2 linked regions of the Homo sapiens genome follow. The protein of the gene in region 1 interacts with the protein of each later gene in a pairwise test. Each region holds a gene or a part of one and is shown in the gene's direction. Other genes may lie near its edges.

Evidence for each region. Proteins that work in one complex are often made in the same cells at the same time.
Region 2: the proteins of NUP37 (region 1) and NUP160 interact in a two-hybrid assay, tested with the Homo sapiens proteins (one study listed by BioGRID).

Annotation. Positions count from the first base shown.
Region 1 is NC_000012.12:102,071,458-102,075,802, reverse strand, and holds the end of NUP37 (nucleoporin Nup37), read left to right. Parts: intron 1-708; coding exon 709-802; intron 803-1,335; coding exon 1,336-1,449; 3' UTR 1,450-2,700; downstream 2,701-4,345. UniProt on the Homo sapiens protein: Component of the Nup107-160 subcomplex of the nuclear pore complex (NPC). The Nup107-160 subcomplex is required for the assembly of a functional NPC.
Region 2 is NC_000011.10:47,838,271-47,842,752, reverse strand, and holds part of NUP160 (nuclear pore complex protein Nup160), read left to right. Parts: intron 1-1,065; exon of another isoform or gene 1,066-1,509; intron 1,510-2,164; coding exon 2,165-2,375; coding exon of another isoform or gene 2,376-2,525; exon of another isoform or gene 2,526-2,687; coding exon 2,688-2,910; exon of another isoform or gene 2,911-3,252; intron 3,253-4,482. UniProt on the Homo sapiens protein: Functions as a component of the nuclear pore complex (NPC). Involved in poly(A)+ RNA transport.

The DNA of each region.
Region 1 (4,345 bases):
TAGGGTAGGACACACTGTGCCCTGAACAAAGTTAGGCTTCACTTAGCATGGAAAAGGGGCAGAATGGCTGTCATATTTGATGCCTTATTTGTTTCTTCTACCACACTATTACCCCTTTGGTTGTGAAAAAAAGGATTGTATCAACCTTGTGTAACTTTGGAACTTAATGAAATGACACAAAATAAGCACTTCATAAAACTTAAAGTATGAGAAAATATTTATGGAATATTTTCCTGGAATTCCCGGTCTAATTGTAAAGACATATTAACAAATTTAGGATTATTAAAATCACTGGTTTTATACAAAAAGAAACCTGTTTCTGTCTAGGTGCTATGGCTCATACCTATAATCCCAGCACTTCAGGAGACCAAGGCAGGAGGATCACTTGAGGCCAGGAGTTTGAGACCTGCCTGGGCAAGATAGCAAGACCCCATTCCTACAAAAAACAAAAAATTAAAACTTACCTGGGCATCGTAGTACACACCTGTAGTCCCAGCTACTAGGGAGGCTGAGGTGGGAAGATCACTTGAGCCCAGGAATTTGAGGCTACAGTGAGTTTTGTTAGCACTTCTGCACTCCAGCCTGGGTGACAGAGCAAGACCCTGTCTCTTAAAAAAAAAGAAAAAGAAAAAGAAAAAGCCCGCTTCAGAAAAGCTTGTCATTATCCATAGGATACGATACTTAATTTTACGCTTCCTTATTTCTTAGGTGGTCCACAATTAGTGAAAATCTGTTTGCAACCACTGGTTATCCTGGCAAAATGGCAAGCCAGTTTCAAATTCATCATTTAGGACACCCTCAGGTAATGTGGAAATGTTTTGTAACATACGTGCTTTTTTTTTTTTTAATTTGTGTTTTTGACTTTTCCACTCATAGCCCCAAATTTGTAATTTGTTGACTGAAGACATTTACGTTTGTTATCTGCTTAAATTGCAAGAAAAGGTGGTTCATTTGTTTTTGTTTTTTGTGTGGTTTTTTTTTGATGTTTACATTACCAGTGACAACAGGTTTTTTTGGCCAGTATTCATATAAGAAGCTTTTTATTCTGTTGCTTTTATATTTTCTTCTTTATTTAAATACATTAATTTTGCTTGTTTGGTTGGTGTAGACTGCAAAAATGGAGTCTGGACTGTACCAGTTATTCATAGATGGATTGTATCCCATGTTTCAGCTGCGTATCAATAATGTGTATTTCACCTGTAAGGGAGCATATTTTTAAATTTTGTTTATGCTACAAAGATAAATCATCAATGCATTTCATATTTTTGAAAGTCATTTTTATTTATTAATTTTGGGGACTTACTGTGCTTCTTTAATTCTTCACATATTTTATAGCCCATCCTCATGGGTTCTGTAGCCGTTGGATCTGGACTGTCCTGGCATCGAACTCTCCCTCTGTGTGTAATTGGAGGAGACCACAAGCTGTTGTTTTGGGTGACTGAAGTATAAAGTGTTTTCTGTACCTTAGATTCACAAACTTTGTATTTTTAGTACATATTTTGAAGAATTTCTATAGTACATATTTTGAAGAATTTTTATATCAAATATACCGTATACTTTAGAAAATGTCTCAGTTGCTTTTATTAAATAAAATGTTGATGGTTTGAAAAATTATTTTTCTACTCTGTTCTCTGTGTGTGTATATATATATATTTTTAATCTTACAAAATCATATTGACTCAGCAGCTCACCTCCAGAGAAGAGATGACTAAGGAAAAATAATGCTTTTGAGTTTATCAAAAAAGGAGTATTTGAAGTGTATCCTGTTTTCTATACTTTGAGTATATGCTGTTTTTCTAATTCTCAGGGACACATTTATCAAAAGAGAAAAAAAGGCCAGGTACAATGGCTCACACTTGTAATCCCAACACTTTGGGAGGCTGAAGGGAGTGGATCACTTGAGGTGAGGAGTTCAAGACCAACCTGGCCAACATGGTGAAACCCTATCTCTACTAAAAAAATAAAAATAAAAAAAATTAGCCAAGCATGGTTTGGAAGACTGAGGCAGGAGAATCACTTGAACCTGGAAGGCAGAGGTTACAGTGAGCCAAGATCGTGCCACTTCACTGCAGCCTGGGCGACAGAGCGAGACTATCTCAAAAGAAAAAAAATCCAAGGAGAAAAAAATATCTTAGGGTATTCTGGAAGTGGTTGTTGAGTATATATATGTGTATGTGTACTCAATTTAATGTAAAAAATTGTTTTCAGTTTCTTAAATATGTGATTGATTATATTGCTCAACCCTGTTTATTATACGCAGATTCCTTTGGACGAGGTGTTCTAACAGTCTTAGAACATCTGATATATGGGATCAAAAGTTACCTTGAAAAATGACTTCTAGTGTATACCTTTAACAGCCTCCTTTTTGTGAATTTTCACTGTTCTTACCAAGAAACTTAAGTGTTTTTGAGATGGGACCTGTTGGCAATGGAACTGTGTTCACCCTCTCAAAGATCATTAAAATCAACGTTATCTAAGACAGCTGTATCACATTTTTGGGATACATCATGGTACAGTCAGAAGCATATAAAATTATGGTTCTGCTTGTCAGTCACATACAGAATCCAATACATTTTGACAAACTGCCCATTCCTGCAAGTTAATGCCCTTTTTGAAGCTTCATTTCCTCTTGTAAAGTACAGATAGGAATCATTATTTTGTGGAGTTGCTGTAAAGATTAAATAAAGGTGAATGAAAATACCTAGTATGTGTCTGTCACGTGGTTCAGAGATGTATAGAAATTATTTATTTCAGAGATGAGTAGGTCTTATTTTTGAGGTTTTAGAGATTTATGTTTAATGCCAGTAAATATTTTTTACTCCAGTTTTCTATTCTTAAGGTGTCTTAAAATAATTGTAGAATCAAGAACATTATATTTTTAAGAGATAGGAGAATGTTCCAGGTAATTAAAAGAAAGAATTCAGTGAAATTTTATAACCATGTAGATGTTTGGGTTCAACTTTTACATGCTTTAAAGTACAGATGAAAAATTTTATAGCAATTTCCTAGTCAATTTTTTAATACAGTTAAATATTATAACCAAATGATATAAATTGTTTTGTTTACCCCTTCATAAGAAGATTTTGAACTAACAAAGGAAAAAGCAAAGAGCAAGGAATTTTGACATGGTTCTCTTTAAGAATCTCTGTGATGGGGCAAGGATTCCTAAAAGCATCAGGATAGCCAAAGGGCTATCAATAGTGACTCTTACAAGAATTTGTCATTTCAGGATATGTCCAAGAAATATAAAAATCATCTCTAAGGCTAGTGTGTTCAAAAATTGTTGTCATATACTTAGAAAAATTGATGCATGAAGTGGGTGGGTTTTATTTAGGGATGGAAATTAAGGAGATGATTATGTTGGGCTTGGGTATATAAGAAATGGATTCTCTGGAATAAGGGCTTAACCAAAATATAAAAGTTGTCTGATGAAATTACCCAGTAGGGCTGGGCGCAGTGGCTCATGCCTGTAATCCCAACACTTCGGGAGGCCGAGGTGGGCGGATCACTTGAGGTCAGGAGTTCAAAACCAGCCTGGCCAACATGTTGAAAACCCACCTCTACTAAAAATACAAAAACAAAATTAGCAGGACGTGATGGCACGTGCCTATGATCCCAGCTACTTGGGAGGCTGAGCCATGAGAATCGCTTGAACCCTGGAGGCAGAGGTGGTGGTGAGCCAAGATTACACCACTGCACTTTAGCCTGGGTGACAGAGCAAGACTCCATCTCAAAAAAAAAAAAAAAATACCCAATAGAACTTCTATCTTTTAGTAGGGGAAGCTGTTTTGGGAAAAGATAACTCATGATGATTGTATACTGTTATGCCAAAAAGAGGCAGGAAGTGTTATCCTCAGAAGAAAATAGTGATTCCATTTGTGGATTAATATAGTGACTGTAAGATAAGACATTCTCAAGAAATGAGAGGGTTGCCTTTACCTGTTAGTTTCAGGAGTGAAATGTACTTTATCCTATGTAAGCATTGAGAACTCTAACCTCTTTTTCTTTTTTTAGATCTTAAAAGTAGGCTACAGGACCATGTTCCAACTTATACTTTGTTGTTAAACTTTATTGTGTTTAATTATTTTAAAATCGTATAATGTTGTTTTTTTCTTAGTAAACTTTGTTCTTCGAAATATGTTTATATTACACTAAGACAGGAGGAAGTATTTATGAGGAATTAGTTATTGGTCATCACTTCTAATTCCTGATGATAATATGAGATATTTCACATTGTGTGTATGTCCCAGTTTTAGTTTTTCCATGTTTGTTTATAAATATGTCTAAGATGGTTTTTCTTCTGTTGAAATTTAAGTTTTCCTCAGGATTGCTTCACTTAAAACAT
Region 2 (4,482 bases), on another chromosome or scaffold:
CTCCCAAAATGCTGGGATCATAGGCATGAGCTATTGTACCTGGCCCTGATACTGAAATCATTAAGAATTATGGTGAGAGTAGTGTGGGAGAGAGTGACAGTGGGCCAGGAGCTAAAATCAACTGCAGTGAGCATGGGTAGCAGGTGGTATCTGATTCCATGAGCTTCAGAGCTGAGTGATTCGGGTAGCAGAGGAGGAACAGTGGCCTAGAATGCCAGTGGGGAACAAGGACATCTGTATGTTTTCCTTGAGGCCCCACCCCAAAGGGCATGGTAGAGAAAACTCTGGGGTCACTGTCCTCACGGGAGATCCAGGATCCAACTTTAACCGTAAGGCAGGAAAGCGAAGGAATTATTCAGAGATGAGGTTGAGGATCCAGAAAATTGTGCTGATGCCGTGAGTTACCAGAAGCAAAGTAGCTCTGGGAAATCATCAGCGCTGAAAAGGTACTTACATCCTTGGGAGTAGATAAGATGTGCCTTGGGAGAAAGTGTACAGTGAGAGAAGATGGTCCAGGATCAAGGTTTGAGGAAATCTAGCATATAGGGGTCAGGTCAAGGAGAAGGGGAAGAAATGGACAGGAATGTGGGAGGAAAACTGGGAGAGGGTAGTATCATAGGATTCATGAGAAGAGACTGTTTAAAAAGGAAGGCAAGGTCACATATGTGGAATGCTGCTAAGAGATCAAGTAAGAGGGCCAGGCATGGTGGCTAACACCTGTAATCATGTGGAATGCTGCTAAGAGTCAAGTAAGAGGGCCAGGTGTGGTGGCTCACACCTGTAATCCCAGCACTTTGGGAGGCCGAGGCAGGTAGCACTTTGGGAGGCTTGAGGCCAGGAGTTCAAGATCAGCCTGGCCAACATGGTGAAACCCCGTCTCTACTAAAAAATACAAAAATTAGCCAGGTGTGGTGGTGCACACCTGTAGTCCCAGCTGCTGAGGAGGTTGAGGTGGGAGGATTGCCTGAGCCCAGGAGTTCGAGGCTGTAGTGAGCTATGATTGCACCACTGCACCCCAGCCTGACAGAGTGAGACCCTGTCTCAAAAAAAAAACAAACAAACAAACAAAAATTATCAGATGGTACATGCTCCTTAGAGCCCTCAATCTCTCGAACTAGAGCACGTTCCAGGATCACATGGCCTTCCTTGTAACACTGGCTGTCTTCGGTGGCAAACTCGTAGATCCATCCCAGTTTGCTGCTGCAGTTTTTCAGCTCACATGTTGGACCATGTGGTGGCCAGTGAGCATGACCCAATCTAGAGCTTCATTGTACTGCAGGTTCACTACCTTGTTAAAAAGAAATGCTCTGCCAGTGGCGCCTGTGAACCAAGTGGAGATGAATTCTGAGCGGTTGGTCAGGATTGTATCACAGTTTGCATAAGAAAATGGACAGGTACCACGAATATGATCAAGGAAAATTCTGCCCATTTTTATGGCTGAAGTTCTAAAAACCCTGTGCAGCAGTGAGATCTGTGGCTGCCAGTGGCTCCTTGCTCCTCAGCTGGGATTAATAAACAAGCTCCTTTTGGGGAGGGTGGGGGAAAAAAGAAAAAAATAAATAAACAAGCTCCTTTTGAGGAGTAATAATGAAAGTTAGAATAGCTTAGTATAGAAACTAACCCTGATATGTTCAATTTGCGAAGGTATTTTTATATTAAAATATTTATTTTTGTAATATTTTTGCACATACATGTAAGCGCATGTATAAAATTGCTATTCTGTGTGTGTGTGTGTATATGTGTGCGCATGCATGCTATTGCAGGTTAAGAAGTAATAGAAACAGGAAATAACCGCAATTATTAAGGTCAGTTTTGTTTGATGCTGTAGTATATATGGAGGCCACATTCCACTACAAGCAATGGCCGGGGTATGGTGTTAATTTTTATTATAGTAGAGTTAATTGCATAAAATATTGTCCTAAATAAATGGCCTATCAAGTTTGGAAATGTCTCTATGTAACAGAATCACAGTGAAATTTGGATTTTGTTATGCTGTTTTTTATAAATGTACATAATGTGATTTGGCATGCAAAAGTGGTCCAAATCTGTTTATCCAAAATTTTCAAATTTGGTGAGTTCACTTGGACACTGTTCTCATATATTTCAGTAGAACAGTCAGTGAGAAAAGCATAAACTTTTCAAACAAATGTCTCTTTTTCAACAGGAAGACCTCTGGAGATACATTGGAGCTGATGGAGGAGTCACTGGACATAAATCTGTTGAATAATGCCATTCGCCTAAAATTCCAAAATTGCAGTGTTTTACCTGGAGGGGTTTATGTCTCTGAGACTCAGAATCGTGTGATAATCTTGATGTTAACCAATCAAACAGTGCACAGGTTACTTTTACCACACCCCTCCCGGATGTATAGGAGTGTAAGTTGGCTAAGTGCAATATCTTTTATTTCCCAAATTACTCTGGGTGTCACAAATGTAGTGCTGGAGCGATGTCTTTTGGAATTGAAGGAAATTTGGATTCTCGTTATCCCTCACCAAGCATACTTTGATAGCTACCGCTTAAAATGATCAGGCATACATTTTAAGTTGAGAATTAGTTTTCATTAAGAAGAATAGCTTTCTTAAACTTGACAGTTTTTTACTTTAAAAACTTTTTTAGCAATAGAGAGGAACTGAGCAAAATTCTGGTTATTTTGATTTAATAGATTTTTCTTTTTAATTACTCAACAGGAGTTGGTAGTTGACAGTCAGATGCAGTCAATATTCACTGACATTGGAAAAGTTGATTTCACAGATCCTTGCAACTATCAGTTAATTCCAGCAGTACCTGGAATATCTCCTAATTCCACCGCCTCTACAGCCTGGCTCAGCAGTGATGGGGAGGCCCTGTTTGCCTTACCATGTGCTTCTGGGGGAATCTTTGTTCTTAAGCTACCTCCTTATGACATACCTGGTAAGAATGGGAACTGAGCATGGATTTAACTTTAAACAAGGAATGTTAACATTGAAACAGTTCAACCTCGTCATCCAATGCAGGGATTGCATCTCTACTGCCCCGGAACTGGTCATTCATTATTGCTTGCCTAATGAGTCCCTAATGCTTTACTTTTATACAGTGGATAAGGAACTATAAAGCATATTGGAGCACGGAAAAACAAATAGACAAGTATAAGACAGCCTATTCTAAATCTTGTAGTAGAGATGGGTTGCCTAATTGTCTGCCCTGAGATGGAGGCATTATAACATTATAATTAAATTAATTGAAACAAAGACATTAAATACCCTGCACCAAGTTGCCACTGTGTCTTGCCTGGATTATTGTATTAGCTTTCTATATATCTCCCCAGATCTGTCTTAACCCTCTTCAGACACTTCTCAGGTGGACTGATATATTTAAAACCCAAGGGCCAGGCGCTGTGGCTCACGTCTATAATCCCAGCACTGTGGGAGGCCAAGGCAGGTGGGTCACCTGAGGTTGGGAGTTGGAGATCAACCTGACCAACATGGAGAAACCCCGTCTCTACTAAAAATACAAAATTAGCTGGGCATGGTGGCCCATGCCTGTAATCCCAGCTACTCGGGAGGCTGAGGCAAGAGAATCGCTTGAACCCAAGAGGTGGAGGTTGCGATAAGCCAAGATCGTGCCATTGCACTCCAGCCTGGGCAACAAGAGCGAAACTCCATCTCAAAAAGAAAAACCCAAGTTGGGTCATGTCACTGCACTGTGTAAAGCCGTCCTTTATGTAGTGCAGTGACATGACACAACTTTTCTTTTATTCTTTTTTTTTTTTTGAGATGGGATTTCTCTCTGTCGCCCAGGCTGGAGTACAGTGGCATGATCTCAGCTCACTGCAATCTCCACCTCCTGGGTTCAAGCGATTCTCCTGCATCAGTCTCCTGAGCAGCTGGGATTACAGGCATTTGCCACCATACCCAGCTAATTTTTGTATTTTTAGTAGAGACAGGGTTTCACCATGTTAGCCAGGCTGGTCTCGAACTCCTGACCTTGTGATCTGCCCACCTCAGCCTCCCAAAGTGTTGGGATTACAGGCTTGAGCCACCGCACCTGGCCTTTCTTTCTTTCTTTTGAGACAGAGTCTCACTGTCACCCAGGCTGGAATGCAGTGGTGCCATCTTGGCTCACTGCAACCTCCGCCCCCCCCAGGTTCAAGTGATTCTCATGTCTCAGCCTCCCAAGTAGCTGGAATTACAGGTGTCCACCACCACACCTGGCTAATTTTTGAATTTTTAGTAGAGATGGGGTTTTGCCACATTGACTAGGCTGGTCTCGAACTCCTGACCTCAAGTGATCCGCCTGCCTCAGCTTCCCAAAGTGCTGGGATTACAGGTGTGAGCCACGGCACCTGGCCAACATGACCCAAGGTGGGATTCAAATATATCATGTTATGCTGAATAAACCCAGAGTCCTTACACTGGCCTAGAGTGACCCACTGCTGTCTCCAACTTCATCTGTTCACTCTTCCCCTCTTCACCAGCCACATGCCTTCTTGTAATTCCTTGAATA